Homo sapiens: one gene and its partners. The protein of the gene in region 6 interacts with the protein of the main gene of each other region in a pairwise test. Each region holds a gene or a part of one and is shown on either strand. Other genes may lie near its edges. The genes, in order: INTS12, SDCBP, GLE1, DR1, HIP1, FAM9A and LMNA.

What was found.
Region 1: the proteins of FAM9A (region 6) and INTS12 interact in binary tests that used the Homo sapiens proteins (3 or more experiments, as listed by UniProt).
Region 2: the proteins of FAM9A (region 6) and SDCBP interact in binary tests that used the Homo sapiens proteins (3 or more experiments, as listed by UniProt).
Region 3: the proteins of FAM9A (region 6) and GLE1 interact in binary tests that used the Homo sapiens proteins (3 or more experiments, as listed by UniProt).
Region 4: the proteins of FAM9A (region 6) and DR1 interact in binary tests that used the Homo sapiens proteins (3 or more experiments, as listed by UniProt).
Region 5: the proteins of FAM9A (region 6) and HIP1 interact in binary tests that used the Homo sapiens proteins (3 or more experiments, as listed by UniProt).
Region 7: the proteins of FAM9A (region 6) and LMNA interact in binary tests that used the Homo sapiens proteins (3 or more experiments, as listed by UniProt).

What each region holds. Positions count from the first base shown.
Region 1 is NC_000004.12:105,682,127-105,684,689, reverse strand, and holds the end of INTS12 (integrator complex subunit 12), read left to right. Parts: intron 1-1,372; coding exon 1,373-1,957; 3' UTR 1,958-2,063; downstream 2,064-2,563. UniProt on the Homo sapiens protein: Component of the integrator complex, a multiprotein complex that terminates RNA polymerase II (Pol II) transcription in the promoter-proximal region of genes.
Region 2 is NC_000008.11:58,573,761-58,577,260, reverse strand, and holds part of SDCBP (syntenin-1), read right to left. Parts: intron 1,362-3,500; coding exon 1,200-1,361; intron 1-1,199. UniProt on the Homo sapiens protein: Multifunctional adapter protein involved in diverse array of functions including trafficking of transmembrane proteins, neuro and immunomodulation, exosome biogenesis, and tumorigenesis.
Region 3 is NC_000009.12:128,539,219-128,542,718, reverse strand, and holds the end of GLE1 (mRNA export factor GLE1), read right to left. Parts: intron 3,104-3,500; coding exon 3,021-3,103; coding exon of another isoform or gene 3,005-3,020; exon of another isoform or gene 2,842-3,004; intron 2,445-2,841; coding exon 2,381-2,444; intron 1,618-2,380; coding exon 1,549-1,617; 3' UTR 431-1,548; downstream 1-430. UniProt on the Homo sapiens protein: Required for the export of mRNAs containing poly(A) tails from the nucleus into the cytoplasm. May be involved in the terminal step of the mRNA transport through the nuclear pore complex (NPC).
Region 4 is NC_000001.11:93,352,407-93,355,906, reverse strand, and holds part of DR1 (protein Dr1), read right to left. Parts: intron 2,000-3,500; coding exon 1,836-1,999; intron 1-1,835. UniProt on the Homo sapiens protein: The association of the DR1/DRAP1 heterodimer with TBP results in a functional repression of both activated and basal transcription of class II genes.
Region 5 is NC_000007.14:75,553,942-75,557,441, forward strand, and holds part of HIP1 (huntingtin-interacting protein 1), read right to left. Parts: intron 2,871-3,500; coding exon 2,769-2,870; intron 2,229-2,768; coding exon 2,085-2,228; intron 1,611-2,084; coding exon 1,475-1,610; intron 586-1,474; coding exon 499-585; intron 280-498; coding exon 172-279; intron 1-171. UniProt on the Homo sapiens protein: Plays a role in clathrin-mediated endocytosis and trafficking. Involved in regulating AMPA receptor trafficking in the central nervous system in an NMDA-dependent manner. Regulates presynaptic nerve terminal activity.
Region 6 is NC_000023.11:8,798,584-8,802,647, reverse strand, and holds the start of FAM9A (protein FAM9A), read left to right. Parts: upstream 1-1,264; 5' UTR 1,265-1,337; exon of another isoform or gene 1,338-1,408; intron 1,409-2,438; 5' UTR 2,439-2,476; coding exon 2,477-2,567; intron 2,568-3,553; coding exon 3,554-3,682; intron 3,683-4,064.
Region 7 is NC_000001.11:156,135,211-156,138,710, reverse strand, and holds part of LMNA (lamin), read right to left. Parts: coding exon 3,399-3,500; intron 2,851-3,398; coding exon of another isoform or gene 2,811-2,850; coding exon 2,590-2,810; intron 2,498-2,589; coding exon 2,275-2,497; intron 1,791-2,274; coding exon 1,683-1,790; intron 1,599-1,682; coding exon 1,479-1,598; intron 1,058-1,478; coding exon 968-1,057; coding exon of another isoform or gene 947-967; exon of another isoform or gene 845-946; intron 224-844; coding exon 1-223.

The DNA of each region.
Region 1 (2,563 bases), on a different chromosome or scaffold from region 6:
TGGTTTATGTAGTTTTTCTTCTCTGGATAACTTCATAAGATAGTTAATATGTTACTGTAAGAAAACTTCCTATCAATTTTCAGAGTATGTGGACAAATATCTGGATTCCTTCTCTTATAAATCGAATATCTCAGAACTCTATTTTTGTTACTTTTCACATTGATTAAAAATGTATGCATGCAGACAATATTGAAGGCTACCTTGATTTCAAGAGCTAAAAATGTTTTATCAACTATTTCAGAGTAAAGTTCTAAATTATAACTGGATATATTTTAGGTATAATAACTACCATTTTTTAAGTAGGATGTTATTTTGTAAAATTTTATCTTTTACCTATATGTGAATGTAATGCTTTTGTGAATCTTCTTAAGAGTATAAAGGTAGAAAAGGTGTCAATAAGAAGTTCAATTCAAAATTAATTTGAATACGTACATTTGTGCCTAATATGAAAGTGAAAAAATATATTCTTGTGTGAACAAGAGCAATATGTATTTATATAGTGGCATTGGTACCATTGTGAGCTTCTGATTAGCCAGGAAAGTTAATCAGAGAAGTTGAAGTGTTATACCCTTATGAAATATATCAGAGAATGAGATCAGTCCTACCCAAAATGTCACTGTGCAGCCTAATGAGGCAATTGATAAAATCCTTATTAAAGGAGCAGGAGACTCTTACATGATAGTTTAACCGGAATCATGGGCAAATTGTGAAACTAAAATCATGAGAACTTTTTAACACATCATAAAAATTGTACACTTCCAAGTAATTAACTTTGCATATATTTTGTACTCCTGTAACTGTTGCTCAAAATTTAGGAGGACATTTTTTTTTAATGGGTTTAGAATCTATACAGCTGTCTTCTTTCTCTCACACAGTCACTCAGTAAATAAATATTGACTGAATCTCTTCATCTTGGATATGTTCTCCTGAATATTCTGGGTATGGGCATTTTTGCTATTAAGAGTGAATTAAATTTTTGAAATGATCCCTAGTTATTTGGAGAAAAGTCTAAAAGAATTAGATGTTTAACTAAGGTCGATAATACTTTGTTGGGTAAAAACTATGTTAAAGCACTAAATCTGGTTTTCAGATATAGCTTAGAATTGAATCTAAAAGCAATTCCCAAAAAGGAATTTCATATATTTTCTTTTGGAATCATTAGAACAAGAATATGGTATCAAAAATTTTCTGCTTTGCAAATGATAATACCCACTAGATACAGATAAGTTTTGTTCTGTGTGGTTTTTCAGATCAGCTTCATAAGAACCTAATTTGGTGGTGTGATTTAAATTTCCCAATTCATAACTTGGGATGTTTATACAGGTACTGATTAAACTTGGCTCTAATGTAATTATTTACTTTATTTTTTTAGACATCCACAGTTATTTCAGGAAATTCTTCTAGTGCCAGCGTTTCCTCGTCAGTAACTAGTGGCTTAACTGGATGGGCAGCTTTTGCAGCCAAAACTTCCTCTGCTGGTCCTTCAACAGCAAAATTGAGTTCAACAACACAAAACAATACTGGGAAACCTGCTACTTCGTCAGCTAACCAGAAACCTGTGGGTTTGACTGGTCTGGCAACATCATCCAAAGGTGGAATAGGTTCCAAAATAGGTTCCAATAACAGCACTACGCCCACTGTACCTTTAAAACCACCTCCACCTCTAACCTTGGGTAAAACTGGCCTTAGTCGCTCAGTTAGTTGTGACAATGTCAGCAAAGTAGGTCTTCCTAGTCCAAGTAGTTTAGTTCCAGGAAGCAGCAGCCAACTAAGTGGGAATGGAAATAGTGGAACATCAGGACCTAGTGGAAGTACTACCAGCAAAACTACTTCAGAATCCAGCAGCTCTCCCTCAGCATCCCTTAAAGGCCCAACTTCACAAGAATCACAGCTCAATGCTATGAAGCGATTACAGATGGTCAAGAAGAAAGCTGCCCAAAAGAAACTCAAGAAGTAATGTGGCCAAGTAGGTTTTTGTATCATATTAGCCTAAAGATGAAAGGCTTATTATTATGATATAATCTGTAATACACTGTAATTTAATAAAAGTCTTCATAATCAAATTTCTATTGTTTCTTACCTTAAAATGCTAAATATTATATAACAAAACTTGGAAACTTTCATTTTAAATCAATCTTCAACATTTTTATTCTAATGATTTCCATAGTGTGTGAAAACAATGATTAGAATGACTGGTTCTCAATGAGATCTTCAGAAGATTGAAAGCATCTGTGAATTTAAGGAAAAAGAAATAGTTCATCTTCTAGCAAAGCCCCAAGAGTTGATCCTGATGAATGAGGTGCCTTATGTGGCGGCAGGGACGACCCAACATAGTTTTCTATTTTCCTCCCCGTATTCTGGGTGTTCATTTTCTGTGCTAGCCCCATTTCAACTGACTCTCCCTCTCCCTCCCAATTATTTCATCTTTTTCAAAATTATTTTTTCATTATTGATTTCTCATATCAATGGATTTTCCTAATTGATTTATCATACTTCATATTATATCTTTACCTTTTTTATCACCTCATTTCAATTATTTAAGGGTATATCTTTTTCCAATAAA
Region 2 (3,500 bases), on a different chromosome or scaffold from region 6:
TAGGTCACATATTTCTATCACACATCTGTTACATTGTAGAATGATAAGCAAGAACTAGGTAGCACCCCATAAATGAACAAATGCCCTTTGGCCAAGTGAACAAATCCACTGCAACTATTACCTACAGTGGGGCCAAGGGGCCTATGAAAAGTATCTTTTCTCTTTAGGACAGAGGAAAGAACACAAGAGCAATCCTGGCGGAAGGAGCAGCAGTATACTCTATTCCCTGAAGATTCTGGAGAAAGGGCAGCAAAGTCAGAGCATCCCAACTAAGCACGCAGATGTATTTTGAGTGACATACAAGTGAGCAAGGCCATCATCGATGGCCTCAGCCCCCTGGGTGGGCAGGCAGGGCGGGGGCCTCCTGCCAAGATCAGCCTCCTCCATTTACAGCAGTGCACCACACTTATAATTTTCTATGTGGAAAGGCTGGATGCACTAAGCTAGAGATGTATGACTGAAACCGAATCCAATAAGGTAATGGCTAAAACTATAAATTGGGGTAAAGACTCAACATGTCCTTCACAATTATAAATGGTTCCTCAGAGAGTAACCCTGTTTCATATCTTCAGTATGTTAAGGTGAGAGGTAATTATAAAGTAAAGGCTGCCCTAATTAGAAAGAATATTCCATCTTTTTTTACTCAGAAAATGACATATTAAATTCAAATGTGAAGGATGTTAATAACAAATCTGCAAAAACCATCTCACCAGTTAAATACTGATCATTTGGTTTAAAAATGCACACACATCCGGGAGGCAGAGGTTGCAGTGAGTCAAGATCACACCACTGCACTGCAGCCTGGCGACAGAACGAGACTCCGTCTCAAAAAAAAAAAAAAAAAGGCACACTGACATTGACTCTCATTGGAAAGTTTTTTCTTAACCTTCACATCTGCTCTATTTAATTGCCACAATTCTATTATACAAACTATAATATATGTAGGCCAGTGAAATGTATTCCAGTTAGAATATTCAGAAAAGAAACATCTTTCAAAGTAATGTGGTCAGAAGTCCCAACTATGCCTCTGCAAAATAGAACATCCCCAATTGAAAACATTTAAGTTAGTAGATTTAAAATATTCTCAACTACAGATGCACTATTATAATTAAAGCATTTCCATTTCAAATTATTTTAACATTAATCACTTATTATGTAAGAGATTTAGACAAATTCAAATAGGTATTTAAAATACTTACATTATCTATTGATTTAAGCCTGAGTCCAATTTTTCCATCTTGATCCTTACACAAAATGACTTCACGAATCCCTTGCTTAATTTCTGCTCTACGAATTCCAACATCATTACCAGTTACAGGAGCCACCATATAGTTTATACTGGAAGGTCTTGCTACCAACTGCTGACAAAACCATATACAATGTGTCAATATCTAGAAACACTCTCCTTGAAAAAAACAATGATAATTAACTGGAACTTACTCAGTTTTGGCTTTCCAAAAAGCAATCCACAAATAATTTCCTTCCGATAAAGTTTGATGTCTATGAAAATGGCACTGGCTCTACTACTAATTCTTCACTAACTTATTCCCACACATATCATCTCTAATAGATTCAATGACTCTCTGTTGCCCTTTGAATTCACTGGCATTTGTTTCACCGGTATACTGGCTTGTCTTCATCTCAAATTTATTATCTTTGAACTTAAAGGCCATATACTTTTGAAACATTTTCCAGACGGTTCATGATGTCACGATCTTTGACAATCTACTTATCCTTTCAGAATTTCCATAAAAGGGGCAAATTTCTTACCTCACTGTTACTGACAGGATTAAATGAAAAGTGCATGTTGTATGGGCACTGGCACACATAAGACAGTCAACTATTATGTCTCTTCCCCTCTAGTAACCATCTATGGATTAACAAATCATATGCACAAACCAGAATGCCCCAGAATACCTACATTAGGGACCTGTGTCATATACCATGTTTCAAGTTTCTAATTCTTTCCAGTTTTCCTAATCAAAACTGGTTTATTTTAAGTGGAACCTTTCCCCAACCAAAAAGAAAATGGAATAATATTAGGCCACTAAAAAAAGGAAATCCTGCCATTTGGACAACATGAATAAATGTAGAGAATATTATTCCAAGTGAAATAAACCAGACACAGAAAGACAAGTACTGTCTGGGTCCCACTTATATGTGGAATCTGAAAAGAGTCAAACTCACAGAAATAGAGAGTAGAAGGAAGGTTGTCAGGGGCTGGGGTTGGGCAGGGCAAAGAATGAGAAAAATGTTGGTCAAAGTGTACAAACTTTCTCAGTTATCATATGAGTACGTTCTGGAGATCTAATGTACAGCATAGTAACTATAATTAATAATACTGTACGGTATACTTGAAAGTTGCTAAGAGTACATCTTAAGTGTTCTCACCACACACCAAAAGAAATGTAACCATGTGAGATGACAGATACGTTAATAACCCTGACTGTGGTAATCATTTCACAATGTGTGTTTGTGTGTGTTTATCAATACATCAAGTTGTATTGATATATACAGTTGAATATATACAATTTATATTTGTTAATTATACCTCAATAAAGCTGGGGAGAGGAAGATCCAGATGGAACATCAAGAGAAGAAGAATAAAATATGTGAAATGAAAAATTCACTAGATATGAAGAGATAACAGAAATCTCCAGCAACAAATTAATTTAAAATAGAACAGAAGAAAAATAAAAGGCGGCGCACTGAAGAACCCTGGAGATGCAGACACAAAAATGAAGGTTATATCACCCTTCTAGGTATTTGGGCAAAGGGATCTAAGCATCCATGTAGTGAACAAAGGAAGTTCTAAATTTTAACTACAGCCTCATGATCAGTTACTAAAATAAGAATCAGAGCAGCTATGACTCTGTTCTTCTTTGTATTTGTATATTTTCTGTAAATACAGCAATTAATCTTTCTGTTCCTCTATACCTCTTTTTACCTTTATGTATGAATTGTTGGTAGTGGTTAACTTTACACTTTTGCCTTTAAATTAAAAATATTCTGTTGGGAATGTGAATACTTAGAAGGGTAATTAGTATCATATAGTAATCAATACCATGATGACTGCCCAGAGATGGCCACATTAACTGGTATCATCCCTTTCTAGAGAAAGGGTGAGAGCAACTTCATTTATATTGAAGGGTACATGGCTTCATTTTGTACACCCCTGAGTTAAAAATGATTTTTATATTTTTAAAGATTGTAAATAAACAAATAACAATAAGAATATGTGATAAAGATCATAAGTGACCATGAAAGCCTAAGGTATTTATTATGGAGCCCTTTATAAAGTTTGAACTTTGATTTTATGAAGAAATTCATCTTTCAAGGAGAAACTATAAAGTTGTTGTTGTTGTCACATGAAATTCAAATGTTTGTACAAGTGTGTGGATATACTGAGTAGTCAAAGGAGTAGGTGGTAACAGATATTAAACTACTGTTTGTCAGCTCCAAATCCACCCTTCTAGACTCTACTTGGTGATGCTGGGCCT
Region 3 (3,500 bases), on a different chromosome or scaffold from region 6:
GGTTTTGCCATGTTGGCCAGGCTGGTAAGACGTGAGCCACCGCGCCTGGCCAAAAAAATTTGTTTTAGACATGGGGGTCTCACTATGTTGCCCAGGCTGGTCTTGAACTCCTGGACTTAAACAATCCTCCCACCTCAGCCTCCCAAAGTGTTGGGACTGCAGGCATGAGCCACTAAGCACGGCCTATTGTGTCTTTCAAAGATTTTAATACACTTTCACATCTCTTGCTAGATAAAATAGGGTCAGTTATTAGTACATAATTCCAAAAAAGGAAATGACAGAAAAAGAAGTAATATTCCCAAGGTGTAGGTCAAGAAGACCAAAAGGAATAAATGCATACCGCTCTATACCTGGACTTGTATACTATCATGATTTACATAGCTCAAGGCAGAGGAAATTGATCATATTGAACCAATATATCAGCAATGGGTTTTTCAAAAAACCAAGCTTTATTATTAATTTTTTTTGGCACCTTAATTAACAATTCATAGAATGGGTCACTTCAGGCCACTCAAGAGTACCAGTGAACACTCCCCCACAAACACACCCTGCCACAAGACATTTAGCACAGAGGAACAGATCCATGGCCACTGCCTCTGCAGTATCAAAGAGAATTAGTCTTTCCACAAAACAAATTTTAACAGCCAATCTCTGGATTTCTGTAGTGGCTTTAGTCAGGCATATTTATCATCATATTAGCAGTGTTCAGTTCCTGCCCAACATCTTTATTTAATCCCAATTCAATGCTTATGGATGCTCAGCTCATGTTTAATGTTGCAAGCCCCATCTTAGCCCATCTTAATTCAAACAGAAAAGAAACAAAACAAAACAAAAACAAAAAAGGTACCTGCCTGGTTCATGGATCCCTAGCCATCCAGGGACCAAATTCCAAATTAGGATGACAAAGAGTTTCCCTTAGTTCAAAATGACATGTGTTTCCAGTCCTAATCCCAGATGTTAATCTAGCCATAGTGTCACCTGAGCCTTAGTCCATGTGTATATCACATACTTCCTCTAGCTTTAGAATGACTTCACAAGCTGAGAAAGGCAAAACAACCATAACCCAGACTTGCATGTAAGTATCTGGCCTCAACTATTAAATAATACTTAAAAGGGAACCTTATGAGCCTTAGCTCTTTCTGGAAATTCATCTGAACAGGGGTGAGGGTGGGTAGGTGGGTGCAAATGGTGGGCTCCCTCCAGCTCAGAGTGCATTTGTTAAGGTATTGCCAACTTTCTGAAAGACACTAGAGACAAGGGAGGAGACCAAGTGCTAAAGACCTTTTATCACTTTTGCAAAAAACAAGAAAGGCCAACTCCATTTATTTTATCACGTGGATCTCTTAAGGAACTACCAAATCTACTAAGGGACCTCCAAGAATTTTGTGACCCATGAAAATCTCCTCTCCTAGTCACAAGGCATAAATACATAAAAATACATAATGGCAAATTTCTGAATCTGACATGACTTCTCCCAAATACAGCTGTCTTCAGTTCCTTTATTATTGCCTCTTTGCAGCAGCGGTGATGGTGGGTGATGGAGTGACATCAGGAGCGCCAGAAGGAGGAAGTCAGAAAGCCCTTGGGGACAGGAATGTCCTTGTGTTGCAAACATTTCTGGTCAGGGAAAGATGAAGAAAACAGAATGAGTTTCTGATAACAGTGTTCCCAACACTTAATGGTTAAAAGAAGCTTTGAGGAACACCATATTTCAGCCCTATGGAACAGTGAACAAAAAGGAAAAAGCCAGTAAGACTGATGGTTCTGTATAAGATGTCCACTTCTGCATGATCTGCTCCAGACAACAAATGAAATGCTCTTATTATTCCTGTCCCACTCTTGTCTCCCTACAGGCTAACCTCATCTTTCACAATCACTATTTTCACAATCGAGCTTTGAGAAGCTGAAAAGTCAGCAGGCTATCTTGGCAAACCCACTATAGTGTTCTAAATTCTTTGTCAAAATTAACCTTTTACAATCTCTTGGCACTTGGAAGTAGGGGAAGAGTCCAACTGAAAGTGCAGTTTGATCTCATGGAGAAAAGTGATGACACTTACCAATTCCCCAGACCTGAGACTAAGAAAATAACCTTGGCCAACATGCAAAAAAAATATATATTAATGAGAGGAGATACACTAAATATATTTTACTCATCTCAGCATAGCTTTCTCACAGGCAGTATAGAGAATGATACATATAAAGAAGAGGAAATGGCAGCCCTTACTCCAAAGGTTAAGAGGGAATTAGGAACAAAAAGAAGGGTTTGGAAGAACTAAGGAAGAGAGTGCAATCAGAGCATCGGAAGGTCCAAGACTTGTCAGACATAGGTGCATTCCAGCCCAACAACAGTGTGGGGCATGTTGGTCTAAGGGCATCTTACCTCCAAGAACTGCTTGAGGCGTATGAAGGAGCCCATCTGTCCTGAGCTTGTGATAGCTTCAATTCTACAGGGAGAGAAAGACACATGAATCACACCTATGATATACACCTATCTTTTGGAAACGGTGTCTCACTCTGTCACCTAGGCTGGAGTGCAGCGCGGTGGTGCGATCATAGCTCACCGAGGCCTTGAACTCTTGGGCTCAAGCGATCCTCCTGTCTCAGCTTCCCTAGTAGCTGGGACTATAGATGCATGCCATCATGCCTGGCTAATTTTTTTTTTGTAGAGATGGGGTCTTGCTATATTGCCCAGGCTGGTTTTGAACACCTGGGCTCAAGTGATCCTCCTCCTGTGGCCTCCCAAAGAGCTGCAATTATAGGCATAATTATAGGCATAAGCCACTGTGCTCAGCCCCTAATTTGTGTTTTTGTTTGGGCAATGATATTTAAGACAGACTCTCATTAAGGTTCAAAAGCATTTATTCAAATATCAACGAGAGGGACTGGAGTAGGAAAGATGTCATACTTAGTACAGGTGTTTTTAACTTGAATCAAAACCAGCAGGTAATAGCACCCTTGGGTATCTGAGGCCTGGTTATGAGTTACTTAATCCCCTGCTGTCTGCTCAACAAGCCTGATACCTGGGAAAGTAGTCCTCTTTGATGAGAATTAGCATCTTCCAGAACTGAACCTGGTATTGCTTCATGAGGGCATTCCCACACACCTAGAGGGAAAGACAGGCACTGTCAGAGCAGAAAATGAAAATTCACACTCACAGGACAGATTCATAAAGCACAATCAGCCCTTCATCTTTCACACCTATCAAAAATTTCAACCACAATGCCACTGAACTTGCTAACAAGGGAATAAATGGAAACACCCAACTTTCTTCTAAAGCATTTCTCTTTATATGGCAATATCTCCATTTAACCAATCAGGTCTTAATGAACTACTCTTCTTTTCCTCTAATGAATGGACGCCTTCCTAAAGGTATGGTATACCTCCCAAACTTAGTAAGGAGAGTATACAGAATACCACTTGTGTTCTCAAATGATACAGGATCATTGTTCATGTATGGTGACTTCAGGAGCTTTTTATTTTTTTTTGAAATAGGGTCTCAC
Region 4 (3,500 bases), on a different chromosome or scaffold from region 6:
GTTAATATTTAAAGTCTAAAAAATGAAACAAAATGAAAGTGATAAAAAAGATATATTTACTTATCCACTCTTTCATATTTAGAACTTCAGTGCTCTAGGGAAGAAGTACTAGGCAACTGCTATAATATTACCTCTCCGCTGGTCATCCTCACAATAGTAAAGAAATACTAGAGATCTTCATACATAAGTCAGGGTAAGAAACAAGGGAGACAAAAAAGAGGAATAAAAAAACAGATAATAGGGATAGAAAGGTGAAGACAGATATAGCAGGCAGTCAATTATTTCTTTATATTTTGCCCTGGCAAGGATAATACATATTCTATTTAAAAGCCCCATAATAAGTTTAAGCATATAAAATGGAGGCTAGAGCATCAGCATGGTATGTTAGAAACAGTACAGGCTTTTGGGTCAAAATACCTAAGTTTAAATATAGACTCCAACACTTCCTAACTTTCTGAACTTACTGTTTTATTTAAGTCAATCTTTCCCACTCAATCTTCCCCAGTAGATTAAGCTCTATAATGACAGGAACCCTGTCTCCTTGTTCACTCTTGTAAGCCTAGCACCTAGCATGATGCTTGGTAAATAGTAATGACTTCAGTAAGTAACTGTAGAACAAATGACAAACAATTTCAAGGAAGTTTTTCCGCCTCTGAGTCTATTTTTTAATATGTAAATGAATACAATAAAATTTATATTTCATAAAAACTCTGCCAAGTTTTTATGTATTTAAAGTATCCAGGAGAAAATCTTCTGTCACTAAATGTTCAATTTAGCATTCTCTAGGTGGTCTGCAATATCAATAAATAGCCATTAATGTTTTTAAAACATCAACACCTCTTCTTTTGTACCTCATATTCATATGAATTATAACATTGCATGTACTAACGCCTGCTTCAAAGGCTTTTCCTCTTTAGTGCCTATGATAGGTTGTTGGGAGGATTAAATGAGATAATGCAGGAAAATTACTTGGCAATGTGATTAACACGTGGTTAGAACTCAATAAATGTAAGTTTTTCTTTTTATCTTGTTTAAATGGTACTTGGTGTCTAGTGACCAACAATACTTAAGACTAAAATGCAGTTTGATGTAAACCAAACTGATTGTTATGGCTGCAGAGAGATCAGCTACAGGACTAACCTGGAAGAGTTTACCTAAAATGATACTTCCCAGTTCTAATGGTTACTACGGCTTCTCTTCTATTCAATCCAAAGCTGCCTTATAATTTCAAATGAGAGGCCAGAACTTAGAAGGGAAAACACAGCATTGCCACCAATTCCCCTCCCTTCTCTTTTTGAAACAGAGAACATTAGTATTTGGTTCTAATCCTTCAGAGTCTAGATATTAGAATTATTACAAGCAAGGAAGAAGACATTTTCTCCCTTTGCTCTACTAGCTTTAAAATATTTTTTAAGATTAAAATGCTTCAAAGGTGTATATTAAAGACCTAATTTAACTACACAGTTGATATTAATCAGATTTTGCTGGTATGTCATGCATCATAAAATTTGATATAGTATTTTCTCATCAGCTCATCATTTTAAATCTTAAGAATATTTAGGTATACTTTTCATGCCTTAAAATGGTCATTCTGTCTGAAAAAATATCAAGTGAAATTTCAATAGGTATTTGGAGTTGTTCTCTTTAGAACAGATTGCTGCAAATATTTACTTTCACATAAACCAGAGTCAAATTGGTCAGCTCTGAACACCAGAATCTATAATCAACTACCTAGAAAAAGGGAATCCTCTGGGTATGTCTGTTAATTTAGGAAGCAATTTCAGTTAGCAAACAGGGTAGGATTCAGAGGAAAATAATTTAAATAAATTACTTACTTTTGCAAATAATTCTTGTTGCTGTCTCAATAACTCTTCTTCAGGAATGCCAAGGTTTTCCAAACGAGAACTGGCCTTTCTTCTTTTTAATGCTACTGTTTTACACTCTTGCAAGACTTCTTTTACTTCACTGATGTAAGAGCCAAATCCCAAACTTTCTAGTGCTAGAGAAATGAAAATATTAAAATATGAAAGGGTGATAAAACACAGCTTTCCCCCAACCCGTAGACCTAAAGTTTTTGTGGGCTTTTCTTTGGGGGAGGGGAATGTTTTGCTGTTTTCTAATAATTTTACCTATTTTATAGTTGTACAACAACTGTCTGGGCAGCCAAGACAAATATTTTATCAATCTGCTAAATATTAGGTGGCAAATCAGTTAAAACTTGAAGAACCAAGGCACATGCCTTCACTTTTCATTCTGACTAATTTTTAAAAGACCAAAGCATTTCCTGTAAGCAGGGAAGAAAAAAAAGCCCATTATAAGAACATATGGTTTTAGTAAGAAAAAACATTTTGTGTCATTTGACTTAGAAAAAGTAGGCTGGTAACACATTCTCTACTAAGTTCTGGTAGGACAGAATAAAAGAACAGAAGTTTTTCTTTTGTCCAATATACCAACAGGAAGCTATTTTTAGCAGATACTCAAACTGCCAAGTTTAAAAAATACTGGTGGAAATAAAAGTCATGAAATTCAGCACTTATAGTCAGCCAACAGGTTTCTCTTGAAAATAAAACTTAACAGGAAAAATAAAAACATATTTAAATGATGTGGCAAAAAAAACGTAGCTGAAAGACTATAAAGATACAAGAAGCACTAATAAAAATGTTTCTCCCCTTTTCGTATTTAGAAAGGAAATTTTATAAGGAAAAAAAAATGGGCTAGGCATGGTAGTTCATGCCTGTAATTCCAGTACTTTGGGAGGCCAAGGTGGGAGGATCCCTTTAGTCCAGGAGTTCAAGACCACCGCGGGCAACATGGCAAGACCTCGTCTCTACAAAAAGTAAAAAAATTAGTCGAGTGTGATGGGTCGTGCCTATGGTTCTAGCTACTCAGGAGGCTGAGGTGAGAGGATTGCTTAAGTCCAGGAGATTGAGGATGTCACGAGCCATGACTGCGTTACTGTACTCCAGCCTGGATGACAGAGCAAGACCCTGTTTCAAAAAAAAAAAAAAAAAAAAATTCACACACCCTAAATACCTTCTGTAATCCAGAAAAGACAAGGCATAAAATTTCCTTTTGGGTCATAGTATTTAAAATTATATTTTATAGTTTTGGTATATTGACTAATGCCCCAAAGGCATATTTTGTATTGTGAACCAATGATGAAACATAGGTGGCAAAAAACAGTAAATCAATTTAAGTCATCAGTTCTTGAAGTCTTTCAATCATTATGTTGAACCAGACTCCTTTTAGTATACATGCTCTCACTTCTAACTTCAGGGATTTGCTCTTCTGGGAGAATGCCAAAAACACCTTTACAAATCTACATGCCCATGCAAACTGTGGTTTTTAGACATTTTGAATGATTTACAACTTTAAGTATTTCAAATGTTAAGCTGTTTTCATCAACCTTCTTTAGAAATAATCTGATGCCAAAAAGCATAGTACTGTCCTATTATTAAGTTAACTCACTTCCCCTGACCTCCCTAAAAACTTCAGAAAGG
Region 5 (3,500 bases), on a different chromosome or scaffold from region 6:
GCCATGTTGGCCAGGCTGTTCTTGAACTCCCGACCTCAAGTGATCTGCCCGCCTCAGCCTCCCAAAGTGCTGGAGTTACAGGCATGAGCCACTGCGCCCGGCCCAACAGAGACTTTTAAAGGCCCCCTGCTCCCCTGGTCCATGAACAGCCCCTCATGCCCCGGTACTCACAGTCGGCAGGCTCAGGTGGGGCTCTGAGGCAGGTGGTGGCACCATGAGCAATGGCGTCGCTGGTCAAGTGGGCCAGCAGGGTTATGGAATGGAGAAGTCCACTGATGTCTGCCAGGATTGGAAAGAGAAGTTTCTCAGGTCTGGTTGATGGTGACACTTTCATACCCTCTCCTCCCGTTTTATGAGTTGCCTACATGCCTTTCTTGTATGAGTTGCCTACATGCCTTTCTTGATGCAGAGGGACCTGTCACTATCCCCGCATTCAGGTGCTTCTGAACCCTGTCTGGCCATCACTAGCCGACAGAGACTGTCCTTGGCCATTCTTACCTTCTGGGCAGGCCAGATACTGGCTCCAGCTTTTCTCCAGTTGCTCGATGCAGCTGGAAATGGATGTGACCGTGGAGAGGAGGTGATCTGTGAGAGGGAACACAGGGCAAGGTCAGAGCAAGTTCTCATAGCTGGCTTCATCCTCGTTAATTAAGCACTGAATGGAGGAGCTTACCTAGTGGGTAAGCTTCCTGCCTAGACGTGAAGTTCATGAGTAATCACCTCTTGATTCAGACCATAGTTTTTTCCTTAGAGAAACAGAATTGTCTGCTCCTGGTGGGTGTTTTATCAGTGTGACCCACTGTCTAAAGCAGTAGCTATCACACCTGGGGGCTTTAGAAAATACTACTGCTGGGCCTGGCGTGGTGTCTCATGCCTGTAATTCCAGCACTTTGAGAGGCCAAGGTGGGAGTTCAGAAGTTTGGGACCATCCTGGGCAATAGAGTGAGACCTCGTCTCTACCAAAAATTAAAAAATTAGCCAAGGCCAGGCATGGTGGCTCATGCCTGTAATCCCAGCACTTTGGGAGGCCAAGGTGGGTGGATAGCCTGAGCCCAGGTCTTCAAGACCAGTCTGAGCAACAAACCGAAACCAAAAATTAGCTGGGCGTGGTGTTGCGTGCCTGTAGTCCCAGCTACTTGGGAGAATGAGTGGGGAGGATTGTGTGAGCCCAGGAAGCGGAGGTTGCAGTGAGCCACGGCACTGCACTCTAGCCTGAGCAACAGAGTAAGACCCTATCTCAAAAAGCGGGGGGGCGGGGGGGGGGAAGAAAATACTAAAATACTAGTGTATAGGCACTAATGCACAGAGTTTCCACATGTAACTGATCTAGGATGGGGCCTGGGCGCCCCTAAGGTAATGCTGACATGCTGCTGGGCTGAGAGCCCCTGAGCTAAGTCTCACATGAGATTCAACATCAACAGAGTCTCAGGCTGTAAGGACCTGGCCCCTGCCAGCTGGGCAATTGCAAGTGTACCTGCAGACCCAGCGCAGCTGATGAGAGGAGGTTCTTCAAGCTGGTTCAGGGCGTCTTGTATCACCTGCTCCGCAGCCTTCCTGGACCCCACCAGAAGCATTTTTCGTTGGTCTTTGGCAAGCTGGCACATAGATTCCTAAAAATGGTCCAGGGAGGTGAGAGTCTGCCCTAGACTCCATAATGAACCTGAGCAGGATGACCTGGCTGGGGCTCTTAGCATCTTAGCTCAAGTCATGGCCAATGAGGTCCAAGCCAGTAAGCCTGAGACAGAGAAAGGCGCTTTAACTGTGTGCACAGGATGTGCGGCTGCCCACGATGTGCGGCTGCCCACAGAGGCTGTGGGGATGGATCACTGCGCCCGCTTCTCATGGCTGGGAGGAGATGCCAAACTTCTCTTCTCATACAAAAAAGACAGCAGTTTGCTTTCCCTCATGGACTCTGCAGGCAATGCAGGGCCTGCTGGCATTACACCTACAGAATGTCTGCACAATCAGGCCAAGGCCCCAAACCCCTTCTCAGCAGCCCCGGGGTCCTCCCAGCCTCCGTGCATGCGCAGAGGCCCTCGGTGGGAATTCACAGGTGCTCGCTCGTGTCCATGTCCGTGACTTGCCTCTGTGCTGGCCAGTTTGAGCTGAGTGTCCTGCAGTTCTTTCCGAAGAGCAGATAATTCCTCCTCCCTATGAGCTGCGCCACTCACCAGGCTGTCCCGCTCCTTCTCTAGCTCGGCGAACTCGGCTGCCCAGTTTGCTTCTGACTGCAAAGGTGACCACAAGGAAAGAGGGAGACGCTGGTTGAGTTAAACAGTCCCTACTTCCCAGAGGTCCAACCCACCACCGGGTTGCAAGGACTGGGAAGGTGATGGCTCTTTAACCTGCCACTCTGATTCCCTCCCGGGGACACACTGATTGCAGTGGGGGCTGACTTGGCCAGGCCAAGGATGGTGGATGACAGCAACGCCAAAGCCAGGGGTGGGGCAAGAAAGGAGGCCGGGCATGAAGGCTCATGTCTGTAATCCCAGCACTTTAGGAGGCTGAGGTGGGAGGATCACTTGAGCCCTGGAGTTCGAGACCAGCCTGGGCAACATAGTGAAACCCCGTCTCTACCAAAGAAAATACAAAAACTAGCCAGGTGTAGGGGTGTGTGCCTGTAGTCCCAGTTACTCGGGGGGCTAAGTGGGGAGGATCACCTGAGCCCAGGGAGGTGGAGGCTGCAGTGAGCTGCGATCGCACCACTGCATTCCAACCTGAGTGACAGAAGAAGACTCTATCTCCAAAAAAAAAAAGGAGGTATTTACCTGGGCAGAAGTTTCCAGGCTGCCTTGCAGAACCTGAAGCTCCCGTTGGCTTGTGGCAAGTTCCTGCTTCAAGCTCTCTAGAACTTCCAGCTGTTCTTGAGTCTGAAAGAGAAGAAAAACAGAGGGACTCTGATCTGGGTGACAGTGACAAAGAATATAAAAATGTAAAAACGTCCCAAGCGATCAACAAGAGATCTGTAAACTCTACTGTATGTAAGTTACACCCCCCCAAAAAAGTGCAGGGTGTGGGAGGAGGAGGCAAGACCCCAGAGTGTACTGAAAATGTGGAATGTCAAGGAAGGATTTTTTATTATTTATTTATTTATTTATTTATTTATTTATTTTTGAGACGGAGTCTCGCTGTTGTTGCCCAGGCTGGAGTGCAGTGGTGCAGTCTCAGCTCACTGCAACCTCCACCTCCAAGGTTCAAGAGATTCTTGTGCCTCAGCCTCCCAAGCAGCTGGGACTACGGGCACACGCCATCACACCTGGCTAACTTTTGTATTTTTAGTAGAGATGGGGTTTCACCATATTGGCCAGGCTGGTCTCGAACTCCTGACTTGGTGATCCACACCCCCCTCAGCCTCCCAAAGTCCTGGGATTACTGCCGTCTCAAAAAACAAACAAACAAAACAAACAAACAAAAAAAAACGCTCATCCCTCTCTCTCTGCCACCCATGTGTTTTCCTTTCCTCAAACTCTCCACCAGCCTCATCCTTGGAAAGCCTTTGT
Region 6 (4,064 bases):
AAAAATGTTTTGGAAATCTAATGAAAATTAATAACGAAATACAATGTTCTACTTACAGTCATTGTTGACTTATCTTAATAATTTGTTTGTTTTGTAATGTGACAAAATAGATCTATATTGTTCATCTTGTCAAAAATATTTATGTGCAGAACTGTATTTTAAAACAAGCAAGTACAAAAGGAAATAAATTAAAGTACACGAATATTTTATTACCTCTCAAAATAGCCTGACTTGAAAAGACCATCACTCCATGGCCAATGGATCTACTTGATCCTGAAATAACCGAGAGTGGGGTGTATCTGTTACTATCAGCAGGTCAACCTTACAGCAACAAGAAGAAAGGCCTTTGACAACCTGATGGTCACTCCTGGGATTTCTATGGCTAACTTAAGTGGCAAGAACTAGCAGGAAACTAGTTGACTTTTTTTGAAGAAAGAAATGACAAAAGTTTCTCAATCAGTACCTTTTAGTCATCATTTCTTGGAAACAACTATACATCATACAGTTGATGCCTTTAAAGACACGACTTTGGGTATGGGCTCAGTGGCTCATGCCTGTAATCCCAGCACTTTGGGAGGCTGAGGCAGGTGGATCACTTTGATGTCAGGACTTCGAGACCAGCCTGGCCAACATGACGAAACCCCGTCTCTACTAAAAATACAAAAATTAGCCGAGAATGGTGGCACGCACCTGTAATCCCAGCTCCTTGGGAGGCTGAGGTGGGAGAATCGCTTGAACCCGAGAGGTGGAGGTTGCAGTGAGCCAAGATCTTGCCACTGCACTCCAGCCTGGGCGACAGAGAGAGACTCCGTCTCCAAAACAAACAAACAAGCAAGCAAAAAACATAAAAGCACAATCCATTGATAAAAAGGGTGCAGCTGGACATGGTGGAAACACACAGGGCATGGGAGGGAGCCTGGGCTCCACCTGCAAGGCGAAGGCCATTCTAGCCAAAGGGGCAGGGGTGGCTGGAAGGAGCTCGGGGGCGAGGTCCTAGGCCCCGTCCACTTGGCTTCCATCCCGAGTCCTTGCATCCCTCCCCAGGAGGAGGCGCTGAAAACTTCTGGGGACAGAGGCCCCAAAGAACCACCACCCACCCCAGTCCACAGCAAATATGGGTGGTCCCTTACGGAAAGAGGGAAGGCGTGTCAGCAGGGGTCGTGGCCCCCAAGGTCCTTCACCCGCATGCGCATGCGCACTTAGCTGACCAATCAGAGAGGAGCGTGGATAGCCAGGGCAGCTGCTCTCGCGAGAACTGAGGACCCATTTTTCTAAGAGAGCGTCGTGGTGCCAGTGCCTGCAGGTTCTGTGAGGAAGCGGCATCAGGGGTCCCTCAGGTGAAGCGCTCGCGGTGGGGAGGCAGGAAGTCGAGCATGCGGCCCTCTCGCAACCAGGGTGTGAAGCGCAGGTGAAGCGCTCGCGGTAGGGAGGCAGGAAGTCGAGCATGCTGCCCTCTCGCAACCAGGGTGTGAAGCGCTGAGCGGCCGGCTGACCTGCACACGGGCAGCCCGAGACCCCTGGCCCCTTCTTGGCTTTGGAGTCCACCATGCACGTGCTAAGAGGCCCCAGGTTTTCAAAGCAGGAAATGGCCCTGGCATCGTTGCCTGGGGCCTGGGTCAGGGCGAGGCCCTGAGGGTGGGCTGGGATGGGCCAGGGCAGGGAGGGAGCTGGAGACACCTGAGTGATCCCCAGGGCCCAGGAGTGTCCCCGGGACTTGTGCATGTGTGCAGTGGGTAGGGGTGGGGCAGGGGAGGGGGGCTTGGGGGAATGGAGGGGGTGGAGAGGGGAGCAAGGGAGGGGTGGTGGCAGAGGGTGGAGGGTCGGGGAAGTGGCAGACAGGCAGGGGCCGGGTGTGGGGCCAGGGATGGGGGCAGGGGAGGGGAGGGGTGTGGGGTTCGTGGGGTGAGGGGATGGGGGAAGGGGAGGAGGAGGGGCGGAGTGTGTGGGGAGGCGACAAGCAGGGGTGTTGTGGGGGACAGTTCGAGTGGGTCCCTCCAGCCCGGCCGCCCGTCAGGACAGGACACTTGGGGTCACGAGGGGTCACCTGGGCATCCAGGCAGGCAAGTGGCAGTGCAGCCCCTGACATTCCCCCAGAGATGGCTGGGGAGGTCCTGTGACACCCGTGGTCCTCCGGGCCACGCAGGTCTCTGGGGCACACAGGGGCAGGGCTGAACTCTGTCCCAGGGACACCGCAAGGATCCTGCAGGGGCCATTCAGGTGTGCGAGGCAGCTGTGAGTTCTGCAGCCAGCCCCAGGGACGGGCTGGACGGGCCACGAAGGATAGGAGGGGACACTGGCATCTTCTCCGACCCCTCCTGCTCCCACAGGATACACGGGGTGGGCCAGCCCCACCCTTTCTTGAATCCGAGATCCCGTTGGCTCTCCTTTCACATATCCTGTTTCCTTAGCTTACTTAGTTTGACTTTGCACTCAACCAGGTTCAGGGATCGCCTCTAACTTCCCAGGACAGCCAACCATGGAGCCCGTGGGCAGGAAGCGCAGCAGGAAGGCTGCCAAAGCTCAGTTGGAAGCTCAAGTTACGGCCGCCCAGGGGGCCACGAAAGAAGGTGCACGCCCAAGGAGATGGTCTGTTTGCTCTCTGCGCGGGGGGCACATGGGCAGCCCGAGACCCCTGGCCCCTTTGTGGCTTTGGAGTCCACCATGCACGTGCTAAGAGGCCCCAGGTTTTCAAAGCAGGAAATGGCCCTGGCATCGTTGCCTGGGGCCTGGGTCAGGGCGAGGCCCTGAGGGTGGGCTGGGATGGGCCAGGGCAGGGAGGGAGCTGGAGACACCTGAGTGATCCCCAGGGCCCGGGATTGTCCCGGGGACTTGTGGATGTGTGCAGTGGGGAGGGGTGGGGCAGGGGAGGGGGGCTTGGGGGAATGGAGGTGGTGGAGAGGGGAGCAAGGGAGGGGTGGTGGCAGAGGGGGGAGGGTCGGGGGAGTGGCAGATAGGCAGGGGCCGGGTGTGGGGCCAGGGATGGGGGCAGGGGAGGGGAGGGGTGTGGGGTTCGTGGGGTGAGGGGATGGGGGAAGGGGAGGAGGAGGGGCGGAGTGTGTGGGGAGGCGACAAGCAGGGGTGTTGTGGGGGACAGTTCGAGTGGGTCCCTCCAGCCCGGCCGCCGGTCAGGACAGGACACCTGGGGTCACGAGGGGTCACCTGGGCATCCAGGCAGGCAAGTGGCAGTGCAGCCCCTGACATTCTCCCAGAGATGGCTGGGGAGGTCCTGTGGCACCCGTGGTCCTCCGGGCCACGCAGGTCTCTGGGGCACACAGGGGCAGGGCTGAGCTCTGTCCCAGGGACACCGCAAGGATCCTGCAGGGGCCATTCAGGTGTGCGAGGCAGCTGTGAGTTCTGCAGCCAGCCCCAGGGAGGGGCTGGACGGGCCAGGAAGGATAGGAGGGGACACTGGCATCTTCTCCATCCCCTCCTGCTCCCACAGGATACACGGGGTGGGCCAGCCCCACCCTTTCTTGAATCCGAGATCCCGTTGGCTCTCCTTTCACATATCCTGTTTCCTTAGCTTACTTAGTTTGACTTTGCACTCAACCAGGTTCAGGGATCGCCTCTAACTTCCCAGGACAGCCAACCATGGAGCCCGTGGGCAGGAAGCGCAGCAGGAAGGCTGCCAAAGCTCAGTTGGAAGCTCAAGTTAGGGCCGCCCCGGCGAAGAAGCACACAGGTAAACACAGCCCAAGGGGCCAGAAAAGAAGGTGCACGCCCAAGAGGACGGTCTGTCTGCTCTTTGCGCGGGAGGCACATGGGCAGCCCGAGACCCCTGGCCCCTTCGTGGCTTTGGAGTCCATTGTGCATGTGCCAAGAGGCCCCAGGTTTTCAAAGCAGGATCGAGGGCCTTAGGCTTCCCGTGGGAGGCTCCCCCTCATAGCAGGGTTACAGATGCTCGCAGAGCAGCTCTTCTCCATGGATGCGGTCCTGACATCCAAGGGGTCTGACTTGTGAGCGTTGTTTACTAGGACTTGAACCGGAAGGGCTTCCAAAAATGCCTCGGTAAAACGGTCCGGAGCCCAGTGATTCCATGCATAGCTCTGCTTTAAAGCTTTAAT
Region 7 (3,500 bases), on a different chromosome or scaffold from region 6:
GATTGTCCCCGAAGCTGCCACCCCCACTGCCCCCCACACTGCGGTAGCTGCGAGTGACCGTGACACTGGAGGCAGAAGAGCCAGAGGAGATGGGTCCGCCCACCTGGGCTCCTGAGCCGCTGGCAGATGCCTTGTCGGCAGGCTGCCCGCAGGTCCCGCACAGCACGGTGCGCGAGCGCAGGTTGTACTCAGCGGGGTCCCCCGAGCTGCTGCAGTGGGAGCCCTGGGAAGGGAGACAAGGCTCAGGCGGGACGGCGAGTCTGGGACTGACCACTCAGGCCCAACCAGGCTCCAGGCTCCTGCAGGCTCCCAGCCGCCAGGCAGGAAGGTGTGGTTCTGTGCCCAAGGAGCCAGCGGGCAATGGGGGTTTGGGAGGCTAGGGGCCCGGAGGAGGAGAGGGAAGACATAAAAGGGGAGAAGGCTCAGGAAGACTTGGGGACAGAGAACCAGAGCAGTGACTCTGACTCTGTTCTAGCTACTCTGAGCTTAAGAGGAAAAGAAGAGAGAACGGGAGCAAGCTTGTAGGGCAGCAGGCATGCACTATTAATTGGAGTGGAGGGGCGGTCAGGAATGAGAGAGAACATTCTTGCAGGAAAAATGAGGGAAATGAGAGGATATGCATGCAACAAGAATGGGGGAGAGAGGCAGGGCGGGCATGCCCCACGTCTGTCCTCCCCTCCCTTTCCCAGAAGACAAATCCAGACCCTTGTCCACTGCTCCCACAGGAATATTCCATGGCATCAGAAAGTTCCCACTCCCTTCCTTACCAGAGTAGGGCACCCAGACACCTGGGTTCCCTGTTCAAGGTATAGGGAGGAGAGAGAAGAAAGGCCAGGCCAGCGAGTAAAGTTCCAAAACATTCTTTAATGAAAAGATTTTTGGCACGGGGAGGCTGGGGAGAGGCTGCCCCCAGGCCTGGCTGGGTGGCCCCAGTGCAGGCTCGGCCTCAGCGGCGGCTACCACTCACGTGGTGGTGATGGAGCAGGTCATCTCCATCCTCATCCTCGTCGTCCTCAACCACAGTCACTGAGCGCACCAGCTTGCGCATGGCCACTTCCTGGTGGGGACATGGAACCAGGTCCAAGGGTCAGGGCCAGGGAAGGGTTGTACAGCATGTCTACCCCAGTGACCACCTGCAACTTTTCTTGTGGCCTGCCCTTTGTCCGGCCTGCTGCTTACTCTGTCCTCTGTGGTGATGGAGCTAAGGAACTCATTTCCACCCCAGAGGGACACTGTCAAGCTCTCCGGGTAGGAGTATGGCTCTGCCTTTAACAATCCTCACTGTCTAACTTCCACCCCTTGTGCTGTTGAGGAAGCATCTTTTGGTTTGCCTACTGGGTGGAGAAGTCTGGAGCCTGCAACAGAGAGCTCTAGAAAGGGGCCCTGAATTGGCAAACTTGGGTTGGGGGCAGCTGGCTCCGATGTTGGCCATCAGGGGGAGCCTCGTCCAGCAAGCAGCCAGGCCCAGGCCTACTTACTTCCCCAGTGGAGTTGATGAGAGCCGTACGCAGGCTGTTCCCGCAGCCCCAGGTGTTCTGTGCCTTCCACACCAGGTCGGTAGGGGGGCTGTGGGTGGCCCCAGCTCCTGCAGCCCAGATCTGGAGAGGAGAAAAGGACACTTACCCCAGCGCTCCCATCGCCACCCAAGGCCTCCCCAGAGTCCCAAGCGCCCTGCCACTCACCGTCACCACCTGCCCAGCCTTCAGGGTGAACTTTGGTGGGAACCGGTAAGTCAGCAAGGGATCATCTCCATTCTGGCGCTTGATCTGCCAATTGCCCATGGACTGGTCCTGCCGGGAAGATAGGGAAGAGGAAGGTCGGGGAGGCTCACCCAGGCTCTTGGGTGTATCTTGCTCAAAGGCCCAGCCCTCTGCCTGCCTGCAATTGAGGCCTCTCCTTCCATCTACACACACCCCTGTCACTGCCCTTCCCCCGGGGATAATAGCCATGATCTGTGGACACATACGCAGCACCAGGCACACGGATACCTTATCTTTCATCTTCCTGACAACTCAAAGACTTAGGGATCAGTATTCATCCCCATTTTACAGATGAGGAAACTGATGCTCTGAGAGGTTAAATAACCTGCTCAAGGTCTCACAGCCAAAGAGTCCAGGAGCCAGGCCTGGAACCAGAGTGTGGAGGAGATATACAGGCTCACCCTGGTCCACCCTCTGAGGGCAAGGATGTTCCTCTCTCCACATGCCATCCTTCTGTCTTGCCACTCTCTCCCTGATGCAGCTGTATCCCCTTAGACCCTGAGCAGGAGCCTACCTCATTGGACTTGTTGCGCAGCCGGACAAACTTGCCCTCCTCATCCACCTCCTCCACGGCCACGCGCCCGCTAGTGCGTGCGTGCTGTGAGAAGCTGCTGCGGCTCTCAGTGGACTCCAGTTTGCGCTTTTTGGTGACGCTGCCCCCACCCTGTGTCTGGGATGAGTGAGAGGAAGCACGGCCACGGCTGCGCTGCGAGGTAGGGCTGGGGGACAGGCGTAGCCTGGGGAGAGGGAGACCAAGTGGGGGTCTAGTCAAGGCCAGTTGCCGGCCAGAGGACACTGCCAGCACCTCCCCGACGTCTCCCCAGCCCACCTCTCCTCCTCGCCCTCCAAGAGCTTGCGGTAGGCGTGGATCTCCATGTCCAGGGCCAGCTTGATGTCCAGAAGCTCCTGGTACTCGTCCAGCTGCTGCTGCATCCTTGCCCGCATCTCGGCCATCTCCCGCTCCTTTTCCGCCAGCAGCCGCCGGCTGGTGTCCCGCTCACGGGCCAGTGAGTCCTCCAGGTCTCGAAGCTTCGCCTCCTTGGCTGCCAGCTGAAGGGGGGTGGGAGGGTTTGGTGAGCTCCCAAGGGCCCTAAGTATGGGGAAGGAGGGACGTGGGTCGGTGTAGGAGACACCTGGCTACTCTCTCCAGGATCTGCAATCAGAGCTTCCCCAGAGCCCTCATCAGAGCCAGCTCTGAACATCACAAGCTCTAAACATAGTCTTGGCTGGCAACTGGGAAGTCCTTCCCCTTGTCTAACTGAAACCTCTCGTTCTGAGGCTAGACTTTTTCTCCTGTCACAAATAGCACAGCCAACTAGAAAAATACTGATGCTTTTAACACCTCACATTGCAGAGTCCTGTGGCAACTCTGAGTTAGGGAGATTAAGAACAGCCTCCATTTTCGAATGGGAAAACCAAAGCCCTGAGAAGTGAAGGTGAGGTAAGAGTGTACAGAAACAGCACACAGGCCATCTGACTCCACATCCTGCGACCCTTCTCTGTGGTTGTGGGGACACTTTTCATCCCTCTCCTCCTCAGGAACCTCCCACCCCCACCCCCACCCCCAACCCTGGGCTTCCAGCCTGCATCCGGCCCAGACTCTAGGCCCCTGGAGAGAGGGGTGAGGTGGGGTATCACCTGCTTCTGGAGCTGGCTGAGCTGGGCAGAGAGGCTGTCGATGCGGATGCGCGACTGCTGCAGCTCCTCGTGGGCAGCCCCCACCAGGTTGCTGTTCCTCTC